Homo sapiens: one gene and its partners. The protein of the gene in region 4 interacts with the protein of the main gene of each other region in a pairwise test. Each region holds a gene or a part of one and is shown on either strand. Other genes may lie near its edges. The genes, in order: DTX2, BAG3, IQUB and EYA2.

Region 1 (7,704 bases), on a different chromosome or scaffold from region 4:
CTACGAATCAGGCAGGGGAAAAGCCTGTTTTTCAGCGCGTAGATAGGCTCGTGCAGGTGAATTACACCTCTCCCAGCTCCAAGAAAACCAAAGGAATCAGGATGCACCTACACCTACCCCAGGAGGCAGGCCCCTTTGAGGCTGTTTCCACTAACAGAGCCTGCTGGCCTGGTTCCCTCCTGACTTACAACGTGGGGCAAGCCACAGCATGCCCACCCCAGCACCAAGGGAAGACAGACTGGCCCATCCACCTTCTTTTCTGTAACTTGCCTGGCCCACACCGGTAGGACCCACATCAGCACTTCTGGGGGCCCTCAGGCCAGGGACGGGGACCCCAGAGAAATACTGGGAGAAACGGAAATGGTTTAGGAAAGACCAACGAGGCCCAATACCAGGAGAAAGGAACAAATCCACATTAAATGACTTAACTCCAGAATCCCAGCTCTAGCACTATCTAGAAATTTGCCTCAAAATAATTCCTAAGAACTTAAGAAGCTCCAGGAAGCTGAGTGGAACAGGGCTGACAGAAGTCCCAGCACCTCTAAGAACCCTCCTGGGCCAGCAGATAGAGCACACTGTTCTCTGAAACAGGCTGACCCAGATACTCAGGGAGGGAAGTTGGGGGAGCATCTCCCTGAGCCTGGCTTGCCTATGTCTATGTCCTCAGAGAGCCCCGATGACACCTTCCTATACTCCCAACTCCCAGAAAGATCTCAGATGCACGTGCCCCAACTCCTGGCAGAAGATGCCCCGGAAAACTCTGACTCACCCAAGGCCCATCACCCTCCTGTCTACTGGCCTCCTCCTAGCTCATCCCTCAAGAGGCCTTTTGGGCCAGGTGTGGTGGCTCATGCCTATAATCTCAGCACTTTGGAAGGCTGGGGCAAGAGAATTGCTTGAGGCCAAGAATTCAAGACCAGCCTGGACAACATGGCAAGACCTTGCCTCTACGTAAAACTGAAAAATTAGCCGGGTGTGGTGGTGTATACCTGTGGTCCCAGCTACTCAGGAGGCTGAGGCAGGAGGATCACTTGAGCACAGGAGTTCAAGCCTGCAGTGAACCATGATTGCACCACTGTACGCTAGCCTGGGTGACAGAGCAAAACCTTGTCTTTAAAAATAGTAATAAAATAAAATTAAAATGTATTAAAAGAGCCCCCTGCCTTCCCGGGAATGTCAATAACTCCCCATGTGCCCCAGATAGCCCACTCTTGGGGTCTGGGCTGAATCCCAGCTCCGCTACTTGCTGGCTGTGTCGCCAACCTCATGGGCCTGAATGTGCTCTCCTGTAAGCGAAGAACACTGCTCAGCCTGAGAGCATCGTGGGATGAGTGAAGTCACTCAAGCAGCCTGCTCAGGAGGGCCTGGCACATGACACGAACCAATGAGCGGGAGGCGCTGTCACTGTGTCTTACACAAGCTGGCAGGGTCCTCGGAAACCCAGTCTGAACAAATACTAGAGGTCCAAGAAGCTGCCAAGGCGGTCTCAACCACCCTGTGAAGTTTCAGCCCTTGACGTGGCTGCGGTGGGCAGGGGTGGGCCGGTGAGCAGGGAGGCAGCAGGATGCCGACCAGGGCCAGTGCGGAGAAAGGAGATGATTTCCTCCCTGGGACCAGGGTGGCCCCAGGCCCACCCACTCCCTCACCACCCGCACCAGGGCACTCTCAGAAAGCCCTGTCCCAGCTACCACTCTGAATTCTCAAAATGTGCTCCAAGCCCAACATTCTCAATAATGAATGACGAAGCCCCAAGTCACCCAGACAGTCAGAGGGCTACGGCCAGCCCATTCACCTTGGCCAAATCCAGGGAAATCCTGGGGGGGTTCCTCATTTTATCTTTTTTATTTTTTTCCCCCGAGATGGAGTTTCGCTCTTTGTTGCCCAGGCTGGAACGCAGTGGCACGATCTTGGCTCACTGCAACCTCCACCTCCTGGGTTCAAGGGATTCTTTTGCCTCAGCCTTCCAAGTAGCTGGGATTACAGGCGCTGGCCACCATGCCTGGCTAATTTTTGTATTTTTAGTAGAGATGGGGTTTCACCATGTTGGCCAGGCTGGTCTTGAACTCCTGACCTCAGGTGATCCGCCCACCTCGGCCTCCCAAAGTGCTGGAACTACAGGCGTGAGCCACTGGGCCCAGCTTTAAGACAGGGTCTCGCTCTGTCACCTAGGGGGCTGAAGTGCAGTGGTGCGATCACAGCTCACTGCTGCCTTGACCTCCTGGTCTCCAGCAATCCTCCTGCCTCAGTCTCCCAAGTAGCTGGGATTACAGGTGTGTACCACCATGCCTGGCTAATTAAAAAAATTTTTTTTGTGGAGATGGGGTCTCGCTATGTTGCTCAGGCTGGTCTCTGACTGCTGGGTTCAAATGATCTTCCTGCCTTGGCCTCCCAAAGTGCTGGGATTAAAGGTGTCAGCCTCTGTGCCTGACCAATCTCCTCATTTTAAATGCCACCCGCTCTGGTCTGCACTGGGCCCGTGGTATCATTCTCTCTCTCTCAAGGAGCTGAGCGCTCTACCAGGCACTCTGGGCTGGGCTGCATCATCACGGGGGCCAGGTCACCCATGCCACCTGCAGCCACTGCCACGTGCTCCACATTCTGCCCTCCCTCACACCGCGCTGACAGCCCCTTGCACTAGACTAGGGCTCAGGGGTAAGGGCTGATACTCTGGTCTCTGGGTCCTTAGGGCCTGGCACAAGGCGGGAGTCAGTGTACAGGCAGTGACCCAGTGTTCTCGGGCACAATGCTCGCCATGCAGCCCGCAAGCAGAGGCCACAGGCCTTTAACTCTGCTCCATGTGGAGGCCCTTAATCATCATGAGTGAAAGGACTGTAGATTCTAACCCGTGTGGTGACCGCCAGGACTCAGGTACAAGGGGTCAGGTAGGCTCTGGATGGCCACGGCACCTCGGCACCCACATGCCACATGCAAATGAGATGCCACGGCAGGACCACCTAGGGGGCAGGAGCCGCATCTGCAGGAATTGGGGTGAGTCTTCCCGGCTAAGAGCGGAAACACAGGGCAGACAAAACGAGCGGCCGTTGCCCACGATACCTGACTGCACCGGAGGTGGAGGATCCTGGGGGCAGGTGCTGCGGTCCCAGGTGGGAGAGGCTGGAGCGGTAGAGGGGCTGGCTCCCCAGGGAAGGAGGAGCTGCGCCCCAGGCGTTGGTGGTGTTCAGCCTGGGCGCAGACCGGGCCCCGGAGAGTGAGGGTTTGTTGTACGGTGCAAAGGCCTGGTGGGTCCCAAACACAGAAGCGGTCCTGTGTGGGGGGTGCTGGGGGACGGGGTATGCAGGGAGGTTGGTCATGGAGTGGCGGTAGCGGCCTGACACGGGGCCAGTTCTGCTGCCACTGAGGCACTGGTGGCAAGAGCAGGCGACGCCTGTGTGGCCCGGCGGAGCGATGATGGTGGTCACCGGGTAAGGCGGCCCTGCTTGGCGCCGCACGCTGCGGCAGAAGCTGGAAGTCTTGTTGGTCTGCGTGTGGGTGGTGTAGTTGACAGTGTAGTTGTACCCCAGGGGGGCCAAGTCCACGAGCTGGTTGCCCCTGGCCACCTGCTGCTCCAGATAGTCACAGACGCTGGCTTCATAGGCAGTCCAGGAGCCATCGTCGCTCAGCCACTCCCAGACGACACCTCGGCCAGGGGCTGAGTGCTGGGGGAACAGGTGTCTCCGCACAGCCCGCATGGTGCCTATTTTCAAAGGAAAACAAAAGGTTAGTCTGCTAGCATCCCCAAGATACAGGGAACGTTCAAATTCTTTTTTCAACCGCCAAAATAAACAAATAGGAACACAGTAGGTACACAGTCATGCTGCTATTTGTTTATTTATTTATTGTTAGAGGCAGGGTACCCCTTTGTCGCCCAGGCTGCAGTGCAGTGATGTGATCATAGTTCACTGCCACCCTGACCTCCTGGGCTCAAGCGATCCTCCTGCCTTAGCCTCCTAAATAACTGGGACTACAGGCACATGACACCACACCCAGCTAACTTCAAATCGACCTCTACAACACCTGCCACTTTCATTCCCCGATTAACACTTCCTGCTCTCTGCCACGATATGCAATTTCCATGTTATTATTTATCCTGTCTGCTATCTTTCTCAGTTGACTTCACACACTGTGAAGGCAACGACTTGGGAGCTGACTGACAGCCACAGTTTTCACAGACTCTACGACACTCCTGGAAACACATAGTTTCCAGGGCTGGGCATGACGGCTCGAGCCTGTAATCCCAACACTTTCGGAGGCCAAGGCAGGAGGATCACTTGAGCTCAGGAGTTGAAGACCAGCCTGGGCAACACAGGGCAATGGAGACCCAGTCTTTACAAAAAACAAACAAACAAACAAACACGAAAAAAAAAAACCCATACTTTTAAAAATAAAACTAAAATTAAAATTGAAAAAAAAAAGGAAAAACCAGTTTTTCAAGTTTCCTCACTGGTGACACTGTGGGCCAATAATTCCTTACTGCAGGGCCAGCCCAGTGCACTGCCGGATGGCGAGCAGCATCCCTGGCCTCCACCCACCAGATGCCAGGAGCACCCCCACCTCCCACCCACTCAGCTGTAACAACCAACAATGTCTCCAAACATTGTCAGATGGCCCCGGGGACAAAATCACCCCCAGTGACAACCACCAGATTAGAGTAAGGGATGGCTCCGAGAGGAAACTGGTGCCTCATTCTCAATAATACTGATCAAAACACACTGCAGGTCCAGGCGCGGTGGCTCATGCTTGTAATCCCAGCACTTTGGGAGGCCGAGGCAGGCAGATCACCTGAGGTCAGGAGCTCGACACCAGCCTGGCCAACGTGGCAAAACCCCGTCTCTACTAAAAATACAAAAATTAGCCAGGTGTGGTGGTGGATGCCTATAATCCCAGCTACTCGGGAGGCTGAGGCAGGAGAATCGCTTGAACCCAGGAGGCAGGGGTTGCAGTGAGCCGAGACTGCGCCACTGCACTCCAGTTTAGGCAACAGAGCCAGACTCCGTCTCAAAAAAAAAAAAAAAGATCAAAACACATCGCAGACCAAAAAGCAGAAACGCACACATGCAGAGGGGCGCAGTTGCCTGCCCAGGGCACACAGCCACTGAGTGGTGGGACAGGGCCCTCTGAACTCCTATGACGCACCACCTCCATGCCGGCCTGCCGGCCAAAGGAACCCTTCAACCTCTGTGGTCGGGACAGGCATTTCTGCTTTGCAAGACAAGGGGAAGGGCCTCCCACAGTGCCTCTCCCACTGTGAGCTGCACTCAACCTATGTGGATGTTCCCACTCACTGCACCCACCCACCACCACGTGTGCTGCAGGGAGAGAGCAGAAGCTCTGTAAGTCACGTCCATCACCCCAACACCTGGCGCAGAGCCTGTGGGAAAGCAGGTGCGGCACCCAGATATGTGCGAGAGGCAGACAGCGTCTTACCGGTGTCCTGGCGGAACTGGGTCCAGCTGGGGAGGTCAATAATGTAAGGGGCCAGCGAGGGGTCTGCCTGGCCCAAGGGGATGCTGTGGGCCAGGCTCCCAAGCCCAAAACGTTGGCCCTTCTGCTGGACAAACTGCTGCTCGATGAAGCTGCAGACGGTGGCACTGTAGGGGTGCCAGGTGCCCAGCCCGTCCTGCCATTCCCACACGGCCACAGCCGCGGGGCTGGTGTACACCTGCACCAGGGAAGGGCTTGGGGCCATGGCCATCTTCCCAAGGAGTCCCGCTGCTTTCCCAAACAGCTTCAGACCCCTCTGGCCTGGAGTCCCGGGGTCATTGCCCAGCGCCTCCGGCAGATCTGTGAACAGGACAGACATGAGCAGTTACCAATGCACATCAGTAGCCCTGCAGAATCAGCCTCAGCGCAGGGGAAACACGTGATGCTTTTCCACAGCTGATTTTTTTTTTTTTTTGGTTACAGGGTCTCACTCTCTCACCCAGGCTACAGTGCAGCAGTGTGATCTTGGCTCACAGCAGCCTCAAACTCCTGGTCTCAAGCAATCCTCACAACTCAGCCTCCAGAGCAGCTGGGACAATAGGCATTCACCACCACACCCAGCTCATTTTTTTACTTTTTGTAGAGATGATGTCTGTGTTGCCCAGGCTGGTCTCAAAGTCCCAGCCTCAAGGGATAGACTCGCCTCAGCCTTCCCAAGTGCTGGGATCACAGGTGTGAGCCACCGCGCCTGGTCTCACGCTTGCTTTTCTTCCCCTAACACCTTAAGGGCATCATGAATCAAGAACCTGATCCTGTCTCTTTGCTGTGGCAGCCAGGAAGAATTCAAAGTCAATCCCGCAGCCTACGTACCGCCGCACAGGCCCATGAAGAAAGAGAGCATAAATTCCGGGTGCTAGTCACCAGCCCAGCTTCTTTCTTGCTACTGATAATTCCCCTCTGACCCAACTGCTTAGTGTGTTTCATCATGCATGTATTTTTTTTTCTTTGAGATGGAGTTTCCCTCTTGTCACCCAGGCGTGTGATCTCGGCTCACTGCAACCTCCACCTCCCGGGTAGGTTCAAGTGATTCTCCTGCCTCAGCCTCCCGAGTAGCTAGGACTACAGGCATGCACCACTGCGCCCAGCTAATTTTTTGTATTTTTAGTAGAGACGGGGTTTCACCATGTTGGCCAGGCTGGTCTCAAACTCCTGACCTCAGGTGATCCACCCACCTCAGCCTCCCTATTAGCACCCACCATCCTGAAGATGAGATCCCAACATTTCTTGGAAAGGAGCAGGGTTTGGGACACCCAGGGAGCAGGGGCAGAGCTGGGAACTGCAGCACAGGTTCTAGCTCCTCATGTCTCCCAGGTGCCCTGAAGCATTGCTAACCAAAAAGGAAGCCCTAGATGGGCACCGAATCACCCCTCTCTGGCCTCTCCAAGGCTCTCTGCACCCACTCCCCGACCTGGCCCCTGCTGACCGGCCACCAGGCCCAGGGAGCTCTTCCCCACATCCCGAGCTCCACCTCCCGAGACCTTCTCCTTGCAGTCACTCCAGCCCACCCTCTTCCCTTGCGAACACTCCACGTCCTCCAGGCCCAGCTTGCATCGCTCAGGATGACCCATCACACGCCCTCTGCACCCTCCACAGCACCCACCAGAACCCTAGTAACCGCGTCCACGTGTGGCTGTGACCACAGTCCTTCTGCTCCTCCCCAGGTGGCAGCAACCCCAAGCCTGCTTCATTCACAGCTGCATCACCGGGACCCAGCAGGGGCATGCCACGTGGTGAGTGTTCTAGAATGTTCTACACACTGCTTCAGAATGACAGAGTGAATGTGGACAATGATTCCGCTCAGCACCTGGAGCTGTCTGAATAAGAAGAGGCCTGCAAATGCCCCACCTGATGGCTGCCCCCCAGGGCACCGGCTGTTGGAGTGCCGGTCCAGGGTCCAACATTTAGTAACCAACATCAAATGTACTTGTCTCTCCTAAGCTGCACAGACTGCCAAGGTGACATTTCTCCCACTTACGGACAGGAAACCAAGGCTGAAAGAGGTCAAGGGGACTGGGTGTGGTGGCTCACACCTGCAATGCCAGTGTTTAGGGAGGCTGCGACAGGAGGGTGGTTTGAGCACAGGAGTTTGAGGCCAGCCTGGGCAACATAGTGAGATCCCATCTCTGCAGAAAATTTAAAAGTTAGCCAGGTGCGGAGGTGCATGCCAATAGTCCCAGCTACTCAAGAGGCTGAGGCAGGAGGATGGCTTGAGCCCAGGAGTTA
Region 2 (7,704 bases), on a different chromosome or scaffold from region 4:
CTGAACTAGGCTGACTCAGAGCAGAGTCCTGAGTGACTCCAGCTCTCAGGTGTTGCAGCCTTGGAGTCGCTGCCTCTGGTCCTTCTTCCTTACACTGTGCAGACAGTCTGCTCACGGTGTGATCTTCTTGTCTCCTGTTTTAGAAAAGATACGATCTTCTTTTTTTAAAACCGTGACAGCCTAGTAGTTTCTGCCCAGACCAATGTATTTTTTTAGGATTAGCCAAGATGCTCTAAATGGTTAACTCCAGAACAATTTTGCTTCAGGATAGCTGTGCTGTAGCCTAACATTCAGCAATGACACAGCGCCTCTGTGCTAACCTCTGGCTGCACAGGTTTTCCTGTGACTATAAACTACAGCCATATAGATATATAGATTTTTGTGGGGGACAGGGTCTCACTCTGTTGCCCAGGCTGGAGTGCAGCGGGGCTATCACAGCTCAATGCAGCCTCAACCTTCTGGCCTCAAGTGATCCTCTCACCTTAGCTTCATGATTAGTTGCAACTACAGGCACATACCATCATGCCTGGCTAATTTTTCTATTTTTTTGTAGAGACAGGGTTTCACCATGCTGCCCAGGCTGGTCTTGAATTTCTAAGCTCAAGCAATCTGCCCACCTCGGCCTCCCAAAGTGCTAGGATTATAGGTGTGAGCCACCACGCCTAGTAAGCCATATATTTTTTAATGAGCTATGCTCAAAGCAAAAATATCTTGACGCTTTTTGTTTTTGTTTTTGTTTTTGAGACGGAGCCTCGCTCTGTCACCCAGGCTGGAGTGTGCAGTGGTGTGATCTCAGTTCACTGCAACCTCTGCCTCCCAAGTTCAAGCAATCCTCCCACCCCAGCCTCCCGAGTAGCTGGGATTACAGGCGCCCACCAACATGCCTGGTTAACTTTTTTTTTTGTATTTTTAGTAGAGATGGGGTTTCACCATGTTGGCCAGGCTAGTCTTGAACTCCTGACCTTAAGTGATACCCCCGCCTCGGCCTCCCAAAGTGCTAGGATTACAGGATTACAGGCGTGAGCCACTGCGCTTGGCCTTATCTTGGCTCTTATTCATGTAAGTGAATATCTAACACTTCTTTTAAAATCTCACCCTAATTTCATCAACTGGGAAATAACTGGACTATATTATTTCTAAACTATTCCCAGCTTAAAACACTCAATTCCACTATAACGTTCAGTTTGGTGAAATCCTGGAAAGCCTCCCAAAAGGGAACTTTGAATCAGCTCTAAAAGGGAGGTCACCACAAACACGGTTAATGGTAAGAACAGGATGAAATATCATTTCACTGATGATGAGAAACACATGGGAATGATGTGGAGAAAATATCCCTCTCTCTACAAATGGGACCCTCCTAGGATTGCTGAACCCAAGTATGGATCGATGTAGCTGTCTACACTCCAGCAACCTCCTTTTCCATCAAATCTCTTTCGCCAATGCAGACATTCGCAACTTTGGCCCTTACCACTCACAACCCAACCACGCACCCCTCCTAGGTTCTAACAGCAATGGCTGTGTAAGAAGTGACTTTAGAAACACTTTAGAGAGGGTGTTCCACAGCCTGTGTTCTTCAAAACCGTCAAGGCCGTGAAAGCAAAGAAAGGCTGAGGGAAGACTGAAGAGAAGTTGCATCTAAATGCGGTGCTCATGATCCTTGTTTCAGTCCTGGAAGACATCCTGGAAGTGGGGGCAAACTGCTATAAAAAAGATTCAAAAATGTACTGGATAATAATGTTGTAAGAATGTGAAATTTCCTGAATCTGGTAAGTCTACCATGGTTATGAACGAGAATGTCTTCCTCTTAGGAAAATATTTGCTATTCAGGGGAAAAGGGACATGATGTCTGCAATTAATTTTCAAACAGTTAAAACACATCAATAATATACGAGAGAAGAAATGACAAGGCGAATGCAGACATATTGACAAACAGTGAACTGGATGAAGTATATGTGGGGCTCTGTATGATTCACACAACTCTTCTATGAGATTGAAATTATTTCCAAATAAAACAACATTTTAAGATGAGGGTGCTCTATTCCAGGGCCCTGGCCAGTGTGACCATTTGTAATGAAAGAATATCCCACATTTGTTCACGGGGGGCTTTCCTTTTTAAAAACTGTAGCATTCAGCTGCTCAAGTTGCAGCCACAGGGGGCCCAGGGCTGCTGACTGTCCTGCTGCTAAGCTGTGAGCTGCTTAAACTAAATGACATCCTCTTCCAGGAACCTGCACCTTGTGTCTCCACTGGAAGATAACCAGACCCCTGCCTACAACCTTCCCCAGGCCAGCACGGCTTCCAATCCGCCATAGCTGGCTGATGCCTCAGCCAGACCACATGGTACCTGATTACAAAGGGAGGAGGGGGGTTAAGACATGGGCCCTGTGGTCAGGCTCAGCCCTAAGCTGAAGAGATAAAATGAACACTTCTGAAATGCCCCGAATAATGACATGTTGAACTCATACAAGTTGGGAGTTCTCATTAAGGGACTCATATGAGGCATCATGAGATGAGAAGGATGAGTAGGCTTCATGGAGGAGACAAGACTGGCTCGTCCCTCAGAGGACAGGGAGAACCTATACTGTGCGGGCATTTCAGGGAGCGGGTTCAGCATGGGCAAAGGCACAGGGGTGGGAATGAGCAGAATGGGCCTGCAGAGTGGAGTGGGTAACTGAGTGGAAGGTGACACACTGCCTACACCCAAGGTGAGGCTGTGGCTGCGGTGTGGATGGGGGTGTGAAGAGCCCTGAAAGGGTGTGGTGGACACTAAGGAAGCTGGTCCCAGGTATGTAAGTTCTGCCAAGCTGTTTCGTCTGCTCTAAGTCAGCCGCAATGCACAATGATCAGCCCAGCAAAAGCTGCAGAGTGCGGAGGGTTCACAGCCTGAGCAACTGTCCTGCATTTCTGTTAATACCTAGCAATTTCTCGAATCTCACTTGCCTGTAGGTACACGCATGTTAAATAGGCAGGGATGAAGGGGGAACCCAGGGCACCCACAGAGCTCCTGCACCCCTGGAGACATACCACCATAACCAGTCTGCTGACGACTAACTTCCCGTACCTGAGGCCTGTCGACCACGGTGTGCACACGGATGGGCGAGGGGGAGTGGAGTGGCGTGCTGCTCCTGGCTGGTGAGCCCTCCCGGCTCGATGCACCCTGGACAGATGACCTGAACGGGGATGCCGCCCGCAGGGGCCGGGGCTCCCAGTCATCCCCCTGGATCTTGTGGTACACAGGCTGGTGGGTCTGGTACTCCCCCTGCTGCGCTGGGTAGTGCGTCTTCTGGGCTTGGTGGAAGGAGGGCTGGGCTGCTGGCCGGGTAACGTTCTGCTCGTGTATCACCGGAATGGAGATGTACCCCCGCGGGAGCTGGTGACTGCCCAGGCTGCTCCTGCCGGAGGAAGGCAGGCTGGCCGAGGAGGATGAGGATGAGCAGTCAGAGGCAGCTGGAGACTGGGACCGCTGCAAGAGACACAGGGTAGAGGGCATGACCCCACAAATGACTCCCCTGGCTTGGCATCCTGACCACGCCTTCTGCTGTGCACCTCCTCAGGGCAATCCATATTGTAAGACCTCCTATCTGTAATTTTCAATTTTCAAAATGTGCGGTTAAGACTGAGAGCTCTGGGGCTGGGCGCGGTGGCTCACACCTGTAATCCCAGCACTTTGGGAGGCCTAGGTGAGTGGACCACCTGAGGTCAGGAGTTCAAGAGCAGCCTGGCCAACATGGTGAAACCCCATCTCTACCAAAAATACAAAAATTAGCTGGGTGTGGCGGCGCATGCCTGTAGTGCCAGCTACTCAGGAGGCTGAGGCAGGGGAATTGCTTGAACCTAGGAGGCAGAGGTTGCAGTGATTTGAGATCACACCACTGCACTCCAGTCTGGGCAACAGAGAGAGACTCCACCTCAAACAAAGCAAAACAAAACAAAACAAAACAAAACACACACACACACAACAAAGACTGAAGGCTTTGGAATCAAGGGGCCTATGTTCAAATTCCTAGTAATTCAATCATTTTCTAAGCTTCATTTGAAATATAGGAAGAGTGCCCCTCCCTCACTGGGCTGCTCTGAAGATGAGGTCAGTCACCTGGGCATGTGCCTCAGCCCCAGGCCAGCACACAGGAAGCGCTCATACAAGGGATGTGTTGTCCCCACTACCCTTTCTCTGCCAATCTACAGAGAACTCGGCTGAGCAACTGGGAGCTGCCAGCATCCCGTGTGGCCCAAGGCAGGTCAAGCACCTTTCCCTGCTGGGCCACCTTCTATTCACCTCGAAATTGAGAGCATTTCCTCTTCTAAGTGCTTTGTTAGCCTAAATTTGTGAAGATGTCTCGCATTTATGTGTCACTTTGATTTCTTGCAGCAAAACCATTATAAATATAGGCATTACTTATTTTTTTATTTTTGAGACAGTCTCGCTCTATCACCTAGGCTGGAGTGCAGTGGTGCGATCTCGGCTCACTGCAACCTCTGCCTCCTGGGTTTAAGCAATTCTCCTGCCTCAGCCTCCTGAGTAGCTGGGATTACAGGAATGTGCCACCATGCCCGGCTAATTTTTGTATTTTTTGTAGAGACGGGGTTTCACCGTGTTAGCCAGGCTGGTCTTGAATTCCTGGCCTCAAGTGATCCACCTGCCTCAGCCAGGTACTACCTCTCTAAGAAAAGAAAAAAGGTATCCCACATTAACTGTAACTTTCACTCTCAAGCAGGTGTGAAGCTGAACAGATTCAGACGGAGCTGAGAGGCAAGCATGACTCAGGGTGCAGATAGGACACGGGAGTTTGTGCCCAGGAACAACGCTGGCACACACCACAGGATGATGTGCAGACAGGAAAATGAGAGGACTTACTGCTTAGGAATCCTACTAGGAATGCCTCAAATCTCAGCTAAGAACCAGATTAAGAACTATTTTTTAGCTATTAATGCACAGAATCCATTGACATATCCCTGAGATGTTTGGCTTCAGGATTAAAATGCTGTCTTAAAGCAGCTGCCTTCCTGACTCCTTATTTCTTTTGAAACTGTGGTGCACGGTGAGGGCAGGCATGGGGTCTCATTTTCCTGTCAACATAGCTCCACAAGCGGTTAAGATTTATCCATAAGCATTGAACTGAACAAAATAATGCACAGCTATCTCTGTGCTTCTGAATAGAAAGCCCAGTGTGAATAAGGAGCATGGAAATTAGGCGCCAGAAGGCAGGCCAGGCTTCCGGTCCCAGCTCTGCTCCCTCCACCTGTGTGCATCTGGAGCAGGCAGGCTGCAGTGTGCCCTTCCGAGCCGTTCCTTAGCTACAAAAAGAAGCCACATGATTCCTGCCCTGCCCCACTGAAGAACAGCCCTATGAGATGCTGGGGGATGATGTGGGGCCATCACCCTGTCTTTGCTGGGTGACCTCTGATGCTGCAGGCTAGACCCAGATGCCCTGCATGTGAACAGGTGCCTGGCCCAGGGCACTGTCCTGAGGGGATGGGCCCGGCCTGGGAAGCACAGCGGCTTGCTCCCCAGCAGGCTGGTGAGCCTGGCCTCTCCTTACCTCAGGTCCGTGGGAGGCTGGGGGCTGGGCTGCCGCCGCCGCTGCCACCTGTCCACACTGTTTATCTGGCTGAGTGGTTTCTGGCATGCCCCGCAGAGGTGACTGGGACCTCTGAGGAGCCGCTGCTGCCGCCTCAGTTCGGAATCGCTGCATCCCAGGCTGGGGATAGACATGGAAAGGGTGCACCTGCCGGTTCTCAGCGCCTTCATGGAGCACAGGAATGGGAATGTAGCCTGGTCGGAGCTGGGGGTACACAGGGTGGCCTTCCCTAGCAGGCGGCAGCCTAGAGCCCTCCCGGGAAGGGCCATTGGCAGAGGATGGAGTCTCCTGAAATAAAAAGTGGAGAAACACAGGCTGGTTAGAAACTGGGAAGTGAACCCTCCTGGCAGAGGAAACACTGTGGCGCTTGGCATTGTGATCTTCCCGAGTGACTTGGGCCTCAAAGCGTCAGCCAGCTCCCAGCCCCTGTACCCTCCAAACCCCCCACCCCATAGAGGTTGCTATTTGGCCAACAGTTTAGGAATTAGGGGCATCAGGAGAAAGCCAAAAGTATCTGTTAAGCAAAGGAAAGGTCCCAATTCTCCAAACTGGTAAGACAGGTTTCTTTTCTGGGTGACTGAGGGAAGCGGTGAGTGTAGGAGAGCTGCCCATGCCCGCATTTTCAGAGACCCGGATCAGAAGATGAGCTCCAGGAGCAGGGGTCAGCTCCAACCTCTACATTACAGCAAGCGTCTCTGTTTCCAAAAAGGCCCTCACATTTCCCAGCAATATAGAGCTTGTACTGGGCCCAAACACAGGACACAGTTTGGGAATCTTTACAGAGAAGTGGGCTGGGGAGCGAGGGCTGCCTCCTCAGGAGTATTGTTAGAACAATTTGCAGGAAGGGGAAGGACAGGGATGCAGAGGCAGCATAGGGAGAGAGGGGCACCCAGGGTTAACTGTGTCGCCTAACGATGCCAACTGACAAAGATTCTCTGCTTGACCAAATCTTAGGCTTCCGAAGCATCTCCTAGGCCCATCTGTGCACTTCCTTGTAAAGTCAAGTTTTAGCAAAAGACACTGCTAAGTCAGTTTAGCCAGAAACCCCCTCCCCAGCCTCACTATCTGATCAGCTTCCACAGCCTCCAGGTGCTGTCTAATCACCCTGGCCTGTCTTCGGCAAGAATCCTGTTTGGTCAGCATAGCCAGAAACACCCTTAGCCCTGATGTTTCCTCTTCTAATTTTCCATCCACACTGCTCCTTGACTATAAATTCCCAATCGCCCGTGTTGTATTTGAAGTTGTGCCCAGTCTCTACCCATGACTGCACGACCCCACTGCCGTGGTCCCTGTGCCTATCTTGATGGCCCCGAATAAATCTTCCTGACTGTGCTTTAACAAGTATCACTGAAGAACTTTTTCTTCAACGCAACAGAGCCTGCTTGGGCAAGGAGCAGTTGGGGTCCTTCTCTTATGTCCTCTCTTGAAGTTCTCCCTTCAGTGGCCTGGCTATTTTGGGACCCTTGAGAAGGCCAAGTTCCAGATGTACCACAGGAAAGATCTTATTTCAGACAACAAGGCTGGCCAGTCACTCACTGGGCAATGCCATCTCTCAGCAAGCTGGGCTGCGCAACAGAAGTCCTAACAGTCCCCGAGCACCGAGGGTCCTTTCCCAGGAGGGGAGCTACTGATAAGTGTCATTTGCATATATCTGTGTAAGGCAACTCTTAAGAAGGGGAGTGATCTTTCCTGACGAAGGCAGCTGTCTGCACGGCGAACAAACGCCAAAGGCTAACAATCTATGAGCTTGCAGGGGACAATCTCTACTGCTGCGGAATCAATCAAAAGTAAGGACAGATACTGAGGGCTGCTCTGCACTTTGAGAGAACAGACCATTAATTCTGTGATGTTTCTATTTGTGTGCAGGCGTGGGCACCAGGTGGCTGACCCTGGTTTAGCCCTTTCAGGCCCATCAACTGCCTCCCTCCTGCTGAGACCCTGCCCTTGGAGGGCCTCCAGCACACAGGAAAGGCATGGGTGTCACTGTGTCCTTGGGGACATGGGCAGACAGGCATTCTCAGATTAGAACAGCCACGTGCTCAGGGCGGCGGCATTACATTAGCCTGCTTAACTCTCAGGTCACCCAAGAGCAGGAGCAGGTCCAGGCCTCACATTCAGAGCTGAA
Region 3 (7,704 bases), on a different chromosome or scaffold from region 4:
ATGGCATTGAATCTGTAAATTACCTTGGGCAGTATGGCCATTTTCACGATATTGATTCTTCCTACCCATGAGCATGGAATGTTCTTCCATTTGTTTGTATCCTCTTTTATTTCCTTGAGCAGTGGTTTGTAGTTTTCCTTGAAGAGGTCCTTCATATCCCTTGTAAGTTGGATTCCTAGGTATTTTATTCTCTTTGAAGCAATTGTGAATGGGAGTTCACTCATGATTTGGCTCTCTGTCTGTTGTTGGTGTATAAGAATGCTTGTGATTTTTGTACATTGATTTTGTATCCTGAGACTTTGCTGAAATTGCTTATCAGCTTAAGGAGAGTTTGGGCTGAGACAATGGGGTTTTCTAGATATACAATCATGTCGTCTGCAAACAGGGACAATTTGACTTCCTCTTTTCCTAATTGAATAGCCTTTATTTCCTTCTCCTGCCTAATTGCCCTGGCCAGAACTTCCAACACTATGTTGAATAGGAGTGGTGAGAGAGGGCATCCCTGTCTTGTGCCAGTTTTCAAAGGGAATGCTTCCAGTTTTGGCCCATTCAGTATGATATTGGCTGTGGGTTTGTCATAGATAGCTCTTATTATTTTCAGATACGTCCCATCAATACCTAATTTATTGAGAGTTTTTAGCATGAAGTGTTGTTGAATTTTGTCAAAGGCCTTTTCTGCATCTATTGAGATAATCATGTGGTTTTTGTCTTTGGTTCTGTTTATATGCTGGATTACATTTATTGATTTGCGTATATTGAACCAGGCTTGTATCCCAGGGATGAAGCCCACTTGATCATGTTGGATAAGCTTTTTCATGTGCTGCTGGATTCGGTTTGCCAGTATTTTATTGAAGATTTTTGCATCAATGTTCATCAAGGATATTGGTCTAAAATTCTCTTTTTTGGTTGTGTCTCTGCCCAGCTTTGGTATCAGGATGATGCTGGCCTCATAAAATGAGTTAGGGAGGATTCCCTCTTTTTCTATTGATCGGAATAGTTTCAGAAGGAATGGTACCATTTCCTCCTTGTACCTCTGGTAGAATTCGGCTGTGAATCCATCTGGTCCTGGACTCTTTTTGGTTGGTAAGCTATTGATTATTGCCACAATTTCAGCTCCTGTTATTGGTCTATTCAGAGGTTCAACTTCTTCCTGGTTTAGTCTTGGGAGAGTGTATGTGTCCAGGAATTTATCCATTTCTTCTAGATTTTCTAGTTTATTTGCGTAGAGGTGTTTGTAGTATTCTCTGATGGTAGTTTGTATTTCTGTGGGATAGGTGGTGATATCCCCTTTATCATTTTTTATTGCGTCTATTTGATTCTTCTCTCTTTTTTTCTTTATTCGTCTTGCTAGCGGTCTATCAATTTTGTTCATCCTTTCAAAAAACCAGCTCCTGGATTCATTAATTTTTTGAAGGGTTTTTTGTGTCTCTGTTTCCTTCATTTCTGCTCTGATTTTAGTTATTTCTTGCCTTCTGCTAGCTTTTGAAAGTGTTTGCTCTTGCTTTTCTAGTTCTTTTAATTGTGATGTTAGGATGTCAATTTTGGATCTTTCCTGCTTTCTCTTGTGGGCATTTAGTGCTATAAATTTCCCTCTACACACTGCTTTGAATGCATCCCAGAGATGCTGGTATGTTGTGTCTTTGTTCTCGTTGGTTTCAAAGAACATCTTTATTTCTGCCTTCATTTTGTTATGTACCCAGTAGTCATTCAGGAGCATGTTGTTCAGTTTCCATGTAGTTAAGCGGTTTTGAGTGAGATTCTTAATCCTGAGTTCTAGTTTGATTGCACTGTGGTCTGAGAGATAGTTTGTTATAATTTCTGTTCTTTTACATTTGCTGAGGAGAGCTTTACTTCCAAGTATGTGGTCAATTTTGGAATAGGTGTGGTGTGGTGCTGAAAAAAATGTATATTCTGTTGATTTGGGGTGTAGAGTTCTGTAGATGTCTATTAAGTCCACTTGGTGCAGAGCTGAGTTCAATTCCTGGGTATCTTTGTTGACTTTCTGTCTCGTTGATCTGTCTAATGTTGACAGTGGAGTGTTAAAGTCTCCCATTATTAATGTGTGGGAGTCTAAGTCTCTTTGTAGGTCACTCAGGACTTGCTTTATGAATCTGGGTGCTCCTGTATTGGGTGCATATATATTTAGGTTAGCTCTTCTTGTTGAATTGATCCCTTTACCATTAAGTAATGGCCTTCTTTGTATCTTTTGATCTTTGTTGGTTTAAGGTCTGTTTTATCAGAGACTAGGATTGCAACCCCTGCCTTTTTTTGTTTTCCATTTGCTTGGTAGATCTTCCTCCATCCTTTTATTTTGAGCCTATGTGTGTCTCTGCACGTGAGATGGGTTTCCTGAATACAGCACACTGATGGGTCTTGACTCTTTATCCAATTTGCCAGTCTGTGTCTTTTAATTGGAGCATTTAGTCCATTTACATTTAAAGTTAATATTGTTATGTGTGAATTTGATCCTGTCATTATGATGTTAGCTGGTTATTTTGCTCATTAGTTGATGCAGTTTCTTCCTAGTCTCGATGGTCTTTACATTTTGGCGTGATTTTGCAGCGGCTGGTACCAGTTGTTCCTTTCCACGTTTAGCGCTTCTTCAGGCGCTCTTTTAGGGCAGGCCTGGTGGTGACAAAATCTCTCAGCATTTGCTTGTCTGTAAAGTATTTTATTTCTCCTTCACTTATGAAGCTTAGTTTGGCTGGATATGAAATTCTGGGTTGAAAATTCTTTTCTTTAAGAATGTTGAATATTGGCCTCCACTTTCTTCTGGCTTGTAGCCTTCATTTCATTCATTTCATCTTCCATCGCTGATACCCTTCCTTCCAGTTGATCACATCGGCTCCTGAGGCTTCTGCATTCTTCACGTAGTTCTCGAGCCTTGGTTTTCAGCTCCATCAGCTCCTTTAAGCACTTTTCTTTATTGGTTATTGTAGTTATACATTCTTCCAAATTTTTTTCAAAGTTTTCAACTTCTTTGCCTTTGGTTTGAATTTCCTCCTGTAGCTCGGAGTAATTTGATCGTCTGAAGCCTTCTTCTCTCAGCTCGTCAAAGTCATTCTCCATCCAGCTTTGTTCTGTTGCTGGTGAGGAACTGCGTTCCTCTGGAGGAGGAGAGGCACTCTGCTTTTTAGAGTTTCCAGTTTTTCTGCTCTGTTTTTTCCCCATCTTTGTGGTTTTATCTACTTTTGGTCTTTGATGATGGTGATGTACAGATGGGTTTTTGGTGTGGATGTCCTTTCTGTTTGTTAGTTTTCCTTCAAACAGACAGGACCCTCGGCTGCAGGTCTGTTGGAGCACCCGGCCGTGTGAGGTGTCAGTCTGCCCCTGCTGGGGGGTGCCTCCCAGTTAGGCTGCTCGGGGGTCAGGGGCCAGGGACCCACTTGAGGAGGCAGTCTGCCCGTTCTCAGATCTCCAGCTGCGTGCTGGGAGAACCACTGCTCTCTTCAAAGCTGTCAGACAGGGACATTTAAGTCTGCAGAGTTTACTGCTGTCTTTTTGTTTGTCTGTGCCCTGCCCCCAGAGGTGGAGCCTACAGAGGCAGGCAGGCCTCCTTGAGCTGTGGTGGGCTCCACCCAGTTGGAGCTTCCCAGCTGCTTTGTTTACCTAAGCAAGCCTGAGCAATGGCGGGCGCCCCTCCCCCAGCCTCGCTGCCGCCTTGCAGTTTGATCTCAGACTGCTGTGCTAGCAATTAGCGAGACTCCGTGGGCGTAGGACCCTCCGAGCCGGGTGGGGGATATAATCTCCTGGTCCGCCGTTTTTTAAGCCTGTCGGAAAAGCGCAGTATTCGGGTGGGAGTGACCCGATTTTCCAGGTGCCGTCTGTCACCACTTTCTTTGACTAGGAAAGGGAACTCCCTGACCCCTTGCGCTTCCCAAGTGAGGCAATGCCTCGCCCTGCTTCGGCTCGCGCACGGTGCACGCACCCACTGACCTGCGCCCACTGTCTGGCACTCCCTAGTGAGATGAACCCTGTACCTCAGATGGAAATGCAGAAATCACCCGTCTTCTGCGTCGCTCACGCTGGGAGCTGTTGACCAGAGCTATTCCTATTTGGACATCTTGACTCCTCCCCGAAAAAAATACTTTTAAAATAAAGCATAATATTAGCAAATACTTATACCAAATTATTTAATTCTCACAGATGATATCATTATGCCCATTTTACAGATAAAGAAATTAGCACAGAGAGGTTAAGCAATATTTTCAAGAACCCAGAGCTAGTAGGCAGTATATCTGGGATCCAAATCCAGGCAGTCTGGATCCAGAACCCATGCCCTTAACCACTTAACTGTGCTGTATCTCAGTGTAGGAGTCCATGGGGGATTGGGAGGAGAACAGAAAAGGGGTCCTGGTGATGAAGAAAAAGTCTAGAAACTGATCTCCCTGCAGATGAAAAAGCTAAGACCCAGGAATGCCTCATGGTAGGTTAGTGGTAGTCAGATCCAGAATTTAACTAACAATTTTGCCATCAGATATATTATCAGAGAATGTCTTTTATTCTTAAGTGACAAACATGACTATGATTTAAAATAGAGTAAAAAATATTCAGCAGATTTTTTTTCACCCATCTAGAACAAGGAGCTAATTTTATTGGTTCCTAATACCCCCTCATATGTACATATTAATATGCTCTACTTGCATACATATGTGTAAACTCTCACTGCAGCAAATATTAAATGTAAATAACAAAGTACACATATTAAAAGTGTGAAATGTAAAATGTGATCTTCCAACCCAGTTTGGAAAGCTACAGTTGGAAAAGACTTTTCAAAATCATTTTTTCATTATTGTTATCATTCATTTTGTTGTTGTTTTTAAGAGAGTAATATGTGCTTACTAGAAAAAAAACTAACAGAATAGAAGGGGATAAAATAAGAAGTAAAAGTATTTCAGACATGCTAATTTTATTTCTCATTGTTAGGCAGTTTATCTTTCCAGGAATTGTCTATAAAGCTACAATTATATAATATATATACATTTAAATTTGTTTATGATCATATCAATGTCTTTCATAAACTATATTTCTGTTTATTTTTAAACTTTAATACTATTTTATGACTTTTTATAATACGTGCTTAACATTTATTTTTATGTAAAATACGATTCTGCCGCATTCTTTTCAACAACTTCACAGTAACTTCTTTGCAAGGCTAAGCCACATGGTAGTCAACTGTTGTTCATTGATGGACATTTAAGCTGTCTCTAGTGTTTTTTTTTTGTTTTAATAGGATAATTTATTTTTTAAGAATCAGTTTTTAAAGTTATGTTAAAGATCGAACTTTTAAATGCATGCAATTATATATAAACAATAATCTATATTAATTTTTAAATTTTCTGCTGGATGCAGTGGCTCATGCCTGTAATCCCAGCGCTTTGGGAGTCTAAAGTGGGCGGATCTTGAGGTCAGGAGTTGGGAGGCCAGCCTGGCCAACATAGTGAAACCCTGTCTCTACTTAAAAAAAAAAAAAAAAAAAAAAAAAAACAGGCTAGGTGCGGTGGCTCATGCCTGTAATCCCAGCACTTTGGGAGGCTGAGCAGACGGATCACAAGGTCAGGAGATCAAGACCATCCTGGCCAACATGATAAAACCCTGTGTCTACCAAAAATACAAAAATTAGCTGGGCGTGGTGGCATGTGCCTGTAATCCCAGCTACTCGGGAGGCTGAGGCAGGAGAATTGCTTGAACCAGGGAGTTGGAGGTTGCAGTGAGCCAAGATTGCACCACTGCACTCCAGCCTGGCGACAGAGCCAGACTCCATCTCAAAAAGAAAACAAAACAAAATACAAAAATCAGCTGGGAGTGGTGGCAGGAGCCTGCAATCGCAGCTATTGGGGAGGCTGAAACACGGATCACTTGAACCTGGAAGGCAGAGGTTGCAATGAGATGAGATCATGCCACTGCATTCCAGCCTGGGCAACAGAGCAAGACTCCATCTCAACCGGTACAGTGGCTCACGCCTGATCGAGACCATCCCGGCCAACATGGTGAAACCCCGTCTCTACTAAAATACAAAAAATTAGCCGGGCATGGTGGCAGGCACCTGTAGTCCCAGCTACTCGGGAAGCTGAGGCAGGAGAATCGCTTCAACCTGGAAGGCGGAGGTTGCAGTGAGCTGAGATAGCGCCACTGCACTCCAGCCTGGCGACAGAGGGAGACTCTGAAAAAAAACAAAAAACCAAAAACAAAACAACAACAAACAACAACAACAACACCAAAAAACCCTCCAACTCAAAAAATAAAAAAATTTAAAAAAGCACTTTTTAATTTTCAGGGAAAAAAAATCTAAGGCTGGTGTTCACAATGTCAATTTTATTTATGGTTTGTTCTCACTATAAGCTTCCCTGTAATCCATTTCTACCCATTTTTTACTCTGCACAAACTTTTTACCTTTTTGCTCTTTGATTTTTTTTTTTTTTTTTTTTTGAGATGGAGTTTCACTCTTTTTGCCCAGGCTGGAGTGAAGTGGCGCGATCTTGGCTTACTGCAAACTCCACCTCCCAGATTCAAGCAATTCTCCTGCCTCAGCCTCCCCAGTAGCTCAGATTATAGGCACCCCCCACCATGCCTGGCCAATTTTTGTATTTTTAGCAGAGACGGGGTTTCACCATGTTGGCCAGGCTGGTCTCAAACTCCTGACCTCAGGTGCTCCGCCCGCCTCGGCCACCCAAAATGCTGGGATTAGGCTGCTCTTTGAGAGCTTTACAAATTTATTTAATCCTTACAATGACTCTGAGGTAGATCTTCTTGTCTCTGTAGATAGGAAAACTGGAACTGTCAAGAAACTTGCTTAAGATCACAGAGTGCATTAGGTTCGGATCCATAATCAAATTGGAAAAAAAGAAAAACACAAAGAACAATTAAGACTCCAAAGCCCTAATGCATAGTCTTTGTATCCTATCACACTGTGGCATTATATATATAAAACAAAAAACTTTATAATAAAGAGAAATGTATTTTCCAAACTGTGGTTCTCCAGATAACAATGTGTCTCCGTGAGGACCATATAGTAAATACATCCCATAAAAAATGATTACCAACCAAAAGCTTGCAATTAATGTTCCAACTAAAGAAAAAGACTCAAAGTAAAAGCATCAGCTATCCTAGGTACTGCTTGGAGGCAACACCAAACACGACACATAAATCATTGTTGAAAAAAACCGTAAAACATAATGCTGGGTATTTAGTTATGTTGAATGCTAAAACTAATCTTTCCTTAACTAAAGGTCTCCGTCAAATGAAAAGTGTATTTTAGTCAAGTCAGGATTTCTGTTTTGCAAACTCAAAGTCTTATATTATTAAGCATATATTCAGGTTATTTATTTTCCTGATCATAATTTTCAAATCAAATTAAGATCAAACTCCACTGACCGTCAGGTACTGTATATTCTCATTTTGATAAATTTCAAATTAATGATAAAAATGTATTAACCTGCTGGTCAATTATACATTTTATAAATATATTTTAACCAATGACATATTATCAGTAAGTACAGATTCAACGGCAAGATTTCATTAAGAAAGTGTTTCAAGCTTCAGATGCCCAAGACTTATTTAATGTGTAAATCTTCACCACTACAATAACCACATGGTTAAACGATCACCACTTCCATTAGCAAGCTCAAGCCTAATAAGTGATCTCCTGGGACTTCAGCACAGAGGTTTTCTAATTTTATTCCTCCACTCAATGTGGCTATTCTC
Region 4 (7,614 bases):
GTTAGCTAAAAAAAACAAAAACAAAAACAACCAAAAAAAAAAAAAACCAACACAAAAACCCAAAAAACCCGGTTCCTTCCACCAACAAAACCCAGTCTTAGTCAGAAAGTCCAGCCTTTGGAGGTAACAGACTAACCAACTCCTTCACCCTCACAAACCTCACAGATAAGGGGAACCACATCATTAGGCGAATTCTCCCTTTATCAAAAGTCTCTGGGGGAGCAGGTTCTCCTCTCTCCCAAGGAATTTATGTCAGGCCAGGCAGTCTTTCTTTTCATTTTGTGCCCAGGTGGGAAGCAGTTAAGTTTTTTACACTGCCCCGCACGTGACACCAATCCTTCTCCCCAAGCCTTTGCACACACACACACAGCATACACCTAAGACCTGAAGACACTGCCTAATACTTATAATTGATTCTCCCCCAAGCATCTTTGTATGAAGGAGGCCTGCCCAGCAAAGACAAAACTCTACCCCAGTCGCAACTTCCACTCCTCCGCTCTGCGATCATGTGCGTGGATACTTAGGAAAGGCATGTGTCTAAAGAAGGCACCTCCACTCCCTTCATTTTCTCCTGACAGCCACAGGCTCTCTTCTCTCTCTGCCCAGAAAGGCATCTGTCATAAGCGGCTGGGAACCTCACTTATTCACCATTACGGCCTGCGATTTTATTATACAAGGAGTTTACTGCTGGCCTAATTAGTTTCAAACTGGGCATTCCAGCTGAGGACACCTAAAAAACATCTGGTGGAAGGAGAGAGAATGAGTCCTCGCTCTGAGCTGGTTACGGTTGGATTTCTGCATAACTCTGCTCTCTTGCGCCCGATGCAAGTTGTCTTTGGAAAAGTAACTGAAAAAATAAGGAAACGGTTTCTTCTTTGTGGGAAAGGAGTCATCTTGTCACGGAGGATCCAACAACGTCTTAAAGTGGACGTGCTTGGACTGTGTATATTTTTTCACAAACGGCTGGGGTCTCCATAGCTTGCTCACCCTAATTCAAAATGTACTTAGCTACACCACAGAGCCTTTTTGCTGAGGGCTTTTCCATTCTCCCAACAGCAGCTAGCATTTTATCAATTTATCCATCTGGAACAAGGTTTGCAATCTCTTACACGCAATTTAAAGCAGAAGTAATACCACATATTTGAAACAGCGTGTCTTGGGCGTTTTTGCCAAATGGTAATCCTATAACAAGTCAACAAATCATACCTCTTTATGATGTGTTTAATGCAAAACAAAAGACATGAAAAGAAGATTCTAAAACTTACGTGATGAAAACTTTTTAAAAAAATCCTAAAGTATTGAGATACACATCTTTTTATTTTATTTTATATTTCCTTTAGTTTTTCTGATATTGGGGAAGTGATTTGTGTGTTTATAGAGTATTCTCATACACATGGTCACAACACCAGGTGAGCTATTTTAAGACAGAAAAGAAAAATGCCAATTCCTTTCAGATAAAATAGTGAATGATATTGTGAAGCTGAAGTTACAAGAGAATGGGGACATATAAACTGCTTTAAAGTAAAAAAAAGTTCAGGCTCTTTTGCATCTAACCACATTGGTCTTTTCACAATGGCAAAAGTTAAGAGTTTGCTACGAAGGCAAGGAGATTTTTTTTAATACAAACACAATTTAATGCTTAGTCAAAAGCAAGATTCAAACCACTATCATTTGTTATTTGTTATATAAATTATAGAAGAACTTACCCAAGTGTGAGAGTGTCTAAATGCAAAGATATGTAAAGGATGAAGGGGCTTAAGGTGATGAAGAAAGACAAGTGGAAAAAATGAACATTTATTTATCGAGTAAAATTGTGAAAGATTCTTTCACAAAGATTATTTTGAAAAAGAGGTTCTCTCCTCCCACTCTTTCTTTGTGTACCTCTTTTTTTTTTTGTAAGCAGGATGGTTACATGTGTATGTTAGTTGCTAACAAATGGGTCATAGTCTGGTAAGGTGCTTACTAGTTCTGTATCTATTATGGTCACAGACATTTCACTCAATCAAGAAACGGCTCATGAAATTAATAGATTCGGTTTGAAATACAATTGTCCACTGGTTATAATTTCCTTTGTAAGGGATCTCCCTAACTCAAACATAATTCAGTGCTCAAATTCTTACATGATGTTTGTAAATCATCCTCCTGCCCCTCCGCCCTCGCTAACAGCTAGATTCCAATGTTCAGCTCTTCCACTGCACCTCGTAATTAAAAGGTACCTCTTACCGGGGTGATTTATACCTCCACGTTATATTTTAAAAAGTAATTGAAGATTACATAGCATTTCGGGGAAGGGGAAAGAAAAGAAAAGGGTATCCATAAAAACGCAGCATCGGTCTTGCTTTTTAAAAAGAATTCAGACCGCGGCAGGGTGCACGCTGTCAACTCTCAGCCTCGGCTTCGGGGAAGCAGGAACCTCGCACTGCAAAAGGCGCTTCCAGTTCAACAGCTGAGAAAAGCGCACTGAGTCTTTTGCGATAGGAGTACGTTCACCAGTCACGCTTTCCTAGTATTCCTTGAGCTTATAAACTATTTATTGCTGGGGGGGAGGCAGGCAGGAATATATTGAAGGAGCCTGGGCCAGCACGGCCGTTTAACCTCCAGACTTCATGACTAAAAAACAATTCCATTTCCCACTTTCTCCCATTACAACGAAATCCTTGCCGCCTTCTAAACACCCTTCGGATGTAAACTTTTCTAAGTTTCAACTCTACCCGCAGCAGGCGCCAGGATTCCCTGCCCCGGTTCAAAGCCCCAGACCTGAACCAGAGCGGGCCGAGCGCAAACGGACTTTTGAAAAGAAATATATCAATAGCTAGAAGGCAAAGTCTCAGCGGGCCGTTCCAGCCCCAAGCCGGGATTCCAGCGGTTGGCTCTGCTTCTTGGTTATCCCATAAACACTACCTGAGGGCTTGAGTTTGCGGACTGGGGGAGCGCCCCTTATCGCGAACCGCCGGGACCATAATCGAACAAAACGCCAAGGACCCAGCCGCGTCTACACCGCCTGCGCGCCATGCACTTGTCCCGCGCGCGGGAGAGCAAACTTCAGGGTCGTTGCCCCAAAGCGCATGGGGAAACTGGGGCCCCGAGCCTGGGAGAGCCTTTCCAGAGGGGGGCTCTGCTGCTGTCCCCTCTGCCCTTGTGCCTTCCTGGCCCTGGGAGGCCCGTGCGCCCCAGAACGTCCCGACAGCTGCGGAGGCCCCGCTTGGCGAGTGCCAGAAAGAGGCGCAGGGCGAGGGGGTCCCGGTGAACAACTCCCCCCGCCCGGCGAATCCCGGCGGGCGGCCTGGGGTGGGCGCCGCTGGCGGTACTCACCGCGCGCAGTGGAGAGGGCGCCCCGACGCGGTGCGGGCGGGCGGGCGGGCCGGTGCGGGTCCGACGAGGCCGGGCTGACTGCGGCGGGCACGTTGCTGTCTCTGCCGTTGCCGCTGCCTCCGCCTCCTGGGCTGCCGCGGCTGCTGCCTGCGCCGGGAGGACCGGCCCCTTCTCCTCCCTGGGCCGGGCCCTCCCTCTGCCCCCGCCCGGGTCCCCGCGCCGCTGCGTGGGCGCGTGGGGGCGCCGAGGCGCGACGCTGGGCTACGCGGGCGCACACACCCGGCGGCTGGACGCAGGGCGCGGGGCTCTGGCCCAGCACGTGCCGCCGCGCCGCTTCCTGAGCCTGCAGCCGAGCAGAGCGCGCTCACTCTCGCCGGTCCTGGAGGCCAGGGCCCAGCCTCCTCCCCACCCACCGACACCCCGCACCTCCTCCCTCCCCGGGGCAGCACATCCTCCCTGCAACCCAGGCATGACCCCTGTGAAAGGAACGACGGCTCGGAGAGGACCTCAATAGTGACACTAACATTCGTTCACTCAACCACCCATTCATTCATTCAAAATATATTGAGCATCTACTGTGCCAGGTACCACTCCTGAGAGACTCAGCTAGAACAAGACAGACTAGTTTTCTGCCCTCCCGGAACTTGCATTCACATGGAGAGGCAAACCATAAACAAATAACCAAGTAAAGAAGCAAGACAGTTTCAGAAAGTTAGAGTTACAGGGAGAAAAATAATATATGTATCTGCTGTTGGGGAGTGGAGGAGAGGCGGTAATTTTAGCTAGAGCAGTCAGGGAAGACCTCTCTGAGGAGGTGACATCTGAATTATGAGGAAGTGCCATTGGTGTGGTATTTAGGTGAGAACGGTTCAGGGGTCTCCCCTATGTTTCACCCATTTTACAGCTAAGGAAACTGAGGTCTCAAGAGCTTAACTGGTTTAGTGAAAGTGAGAGGTATAGCCCCCTCCACCTACATGCCCAAATCAAGGCACCCCACTTACTCCATCCTCTCATAGCCACCCCCCTTTTAGTCTCCCTGGCAATGAACTGTGTTAATTGGAGTCTATGCAGCCTTTCCTAGCCCGTCACCCACTCTCTAATGTCTATGAATTCCACCGTGGGACACCCAGGATGCTTCAATCCAAAAGCAATATCAACCACTGTCATTTCTTAAGTGCAGTAAAAGACAGGGCACCCAGGTGAATTTGAATTTCAGAGAAACGAGGAATCAGTTGCAGTATATGTCTTATGCGATTGGTTGTACGTACTTATATTTAAAAAGTATTTCTTTTGTCTCCGAAATTCCAATGTAACCGGGGGTCCTATATTTTTATTTGCAACCTTAAGCTCATCCAATGCCCAACTCTTCCTTATCTCATGTAATCCCCAAGAGAGACCCCAAGGTAGCTGCTGTCAGCACACTCATTTCACAAATGAGCAGGTCCAAGCTCAAAGAAGGCAGAAAGTGGCTGAGCCAGGAATGAAATTCAGGCCTGGCTGACTCCAAAGCCGTTGCTCTTGAGCCGTAACAGTCTTCAATTCCAGTTGTAAGTTTACAGGAGCTGATGAAGGTTAAGTTCTTGGGCCCCTGACTTGCTTGGACCCCTTTCTAAGGGGACTTAGAAAAGTGTTCAGATGGTGGCTTGTTGATGTAAAGTTTACAAAAGTCCTTTGCTTTGGACATTTGGCTGCAGGCCGTAGACACCGCTGTCTTTCCACTCCGATTCCCCACCCCCAACTTGCCCTTGAGTAGGGTGGTGTCAGGTGGCTGCTGGCATTTTGGAGGAAAGTTGAGTTGGGAATTTTGTGATGTTTGTGGTAATTTTCAGCTTCTTAAAATTTGAATTTGTTGTGATTTCTTTTCTTAATTTAAAGAAATAATCATTTTCTTATCTAATCTTGGACTCATAATTTTGTACTCTTTTTCTTGAATAGGGGCTGCAAATTATACATGTATCAGGCCTCACCATTCCCAGACCCACCTCTGGTCATAGCTTACTCCGCTTTCTACTCCCCAAACTTCAGACAGAAGCAAATGTATTCAGTAAACATGGTTGTTCTCTTCTCTGGGCCTGCCGCAGTAGGCTTGGAGATGGCTCTGCTTCTGTCTTCTAGAGGCAGAATGTACATATGTACTTGGCCTTGATTTTCTCATCACTAAAGTGAAAATAACAGTACTCATCTTATACTATTATTGTGAAAATTCATGGAGCTCATGCTCATAAAACACTTTCTACTATGACTGCAGCTGGCACTAGCAATTGCTCAACAAATATTATTACTGTACACACAGCTTCACTTCCCATAGTATCTTTGCTAAGTGCTCCAAGTCATTATAAATTGAGCATCTTAATGACCTTCAGAGGTGTTTAATTTGTCTTGGCCTGTGAACCTTAATTTTTTTTTCCTAAAGGAATAGACTGGAATAGGAAATATCAAGTGAATTGTATGCAGTAAGAATATATATACATACCTATACATATATAGTTACATATATACATATGATCCCCTATATATAGTTAAATGTATACATATGGTCCCCAATTTATGATGGTTTCACTTAATGATTTTTTTGACTTTATGACGATGTGAAAGTGATGTGTATTCAGTAGAAACCACAATTGAGATACCCATACAACCATTCTATTTTTCACTTTCAGCAAAATATTTGATAAATTTCATGAGATATTCAAAACTGTATTATAAAATAGGCTTTGTATTAGATGATTTTGCCCAACTGCGAGGTAATGCAAGTGTTCTGAGTGCATTTAAGGTAGGTTAGGCTGAGCTATGATGTTCAGTAGGTTAGGCGTATTAAATGCATTTTGAACTTAGGATATTTTCAATTTACAATGGAGAGATATATATGTATATATGTATACGTATATCATATATACGTATACATACATACATATATATATACACACATGTATCTGTATCTATATCTATATCCATATCTATATCTATATCTTTGGTCAGGATGTGAAATGTTTCTTCCTGTGGCTCATGGGGAAAAATCTTGAACACTTGTTAACCAAAGGTACCCTATAGAATGCAAAGGGTTAATCTATTTCCTTCATACCATTTTATTCCTTCCCCAGAATCTGGCCCATTATTTCATAAATTACAGACACACCCCAACGACCCTGAGAGATAAGCAGGAGGCAGGTGCTTATTAATTTTATTTTTCCTTCTCTTAGCGCTGTGATTCTCAACTCTGGGTGCACAGAATCTCCAGGGAGAGCTTTTAAAAATCTCCATGCTGAGTCCCCATCCTAGACCAATTAAACCAGACTCTGGGGTGGAACTGTGGCATCTGCCTTTTTTTTTTTTTTTTTTTTTTTGAGAAGGAGCCTTACTCTGTCGCCCAGGCTGGAGTGCAATGGTGTGATCTTGGCTCACTGCAACCTTCACCTCCTGGATTCAAGCAATTCTCCTGCCTCAGCCTCCCAAGTAGCTGGGATTACAGGCATGTGCCACCACGCCCAGCTAAGTTTTGTATTTTTAGTGGAGACAAGGTTTCTTCATGTTGGCCAGGCTGCTCTTGAACTCCTGACCTCAGGTGACCCACCCATCTTGGCCTCCCAAAGTGCTAGGATTACAGGCGTGAGCCACTGTGCTTGGCCGGCATCATCCTTTTTTAAAGCTCCCTAGGTGATTCCAATATACAGCAGAGGAAGAGAATCCCTATCTTTGGGAGAGTGAGACCTTGACCACAGAGTCACAGCAGATGAGCAGAAGCTGATAGGACTTAAGCCCCCAATGCTAATTCAAGACCCTGAAAATTCAGCCACCTTCCTATGTAGAAGCACCCCCTTTCTGTCTCTTTCTTCCCTTGCTATCTCTTTGTTAAGTATTTGTCCTCATTTGATAACAACCAGCAAAATGATCCCAAACAAAATTTGAAAGTGCTAAGCCATACAGCAGATTCTTTGTGGTGTAGTCCACAGTCATGCCTACCTTGGAGTAAAACACATTTCCCCCACTCCAGTCTTCCAAGTAAATGCCCTCTAAAGCCAGAAAAACACATTAATTTTGAAAACTATGAACCTCACAATATATCCAATGTATGTATATTCATTGTAGGATATGTATATACATATCCTACAAACACACATGTGAATTCTACAAATCATGCCTTTTTTCTAAACATATTCCTTTCCCACCTGCAAAGGTCACCTCTACAGAAAAAGCATTCAATTTTTTAAAATACATTCACTTAAACCTTGGCTCTTTCCAAAAAGGATTTGAGGCAACATATAAAACCATATATATGGCAGCAGAATAAAGAAAACAAGAAAA

The links.
Region 1: the proteins of EYA2 (region 4) and DTX2 interact in binary tests that used the Homo sapiens proteins (3 or more experiments, as listed by UniProt).
Region 2: the proteins of EYA2 (region 4) and BAG3 interact in binary tests that used the Homo sapiens proteins (3 or more experiments, as listed by UniProt).
Region 3: the proteins of EYA2 (region 4) and IQUB interact in binary tests that used the Homo sapiens proteins (3 or more experiments, as listed by UniProt).

Annotation. Positions count from the first base shown.
Region 1 is NC_000007.14:76,478,498-76,486,201, reverse strand, and holds part of DTX2 (probable E3 ubiquitin-protein ligase DTX2), read right to left. Parts: intron 5,782-7,704; 5' UTR 5,693-5,781; coding exon 5,425-5,692; intron 3,695-5,424; coding exon 3,055-3,694; intron 1-3,054. UniProt on the Homo sapiens protein: Regulator of Notch signaling, a signaling pathway involved in cell-cell communications that regulates a broad spectrum of cell-fate determinations.
Region 2 is NC_000010.11:119,668,014-119,675,717, reverse strand, and holds part of BAG3 (BAG family molecular chaperone regulator 3), read right to left. Parts: intron 5,868-7,704; coding exon 5,541-5,867; intron 3,464-5,540; coding exon 3,062-3,463; intron 1-3,061. UniProt on the Homo sapiens protein: Co-chaperone and adapter protein that connects different classes of molecular chaperones including heat shock proteins 70 (HSP70s), e.g. HSPA1A/HSP70 or HSPA8/HSC70, and small heat shock proteins (sHSPs), e.g. HSPB8.
Region 3 is NC_000007.14:123,524,265-123,531,968, forward strand, and holds part of IQUB (IQ motif and ubiquitin-like domain-containing protein), read right to left. Parts: intron 4,088-7,704; exon of another isoform or gene 3,981-4,087; intron 1-3,980. UniProt on the Homo sapiens protein: Adapter protein that anchors the radial spoke 1 (RS1) complex to the A microtubule of outer doublet microtubules in axonemes. The triple radial spokes (RS1, RS2 and RS3) are required to modulate beating of the sperm flagellum.
Region 4 is NC_000020.11:46,890,686-46,898,299, reverse strand, and holds the start of EYA2 (protein phosphatase EYA2), read right to left. Parts: upstream 3,458-7,614; 5' UTR 3,313-3,457; intron 1-3,312. UniProt on the Homo sapiens protein: Functions both as protein phosphatase and as transcriptional coactivator for SIX1, and probably also for SIX2, SIX4 and SIX5.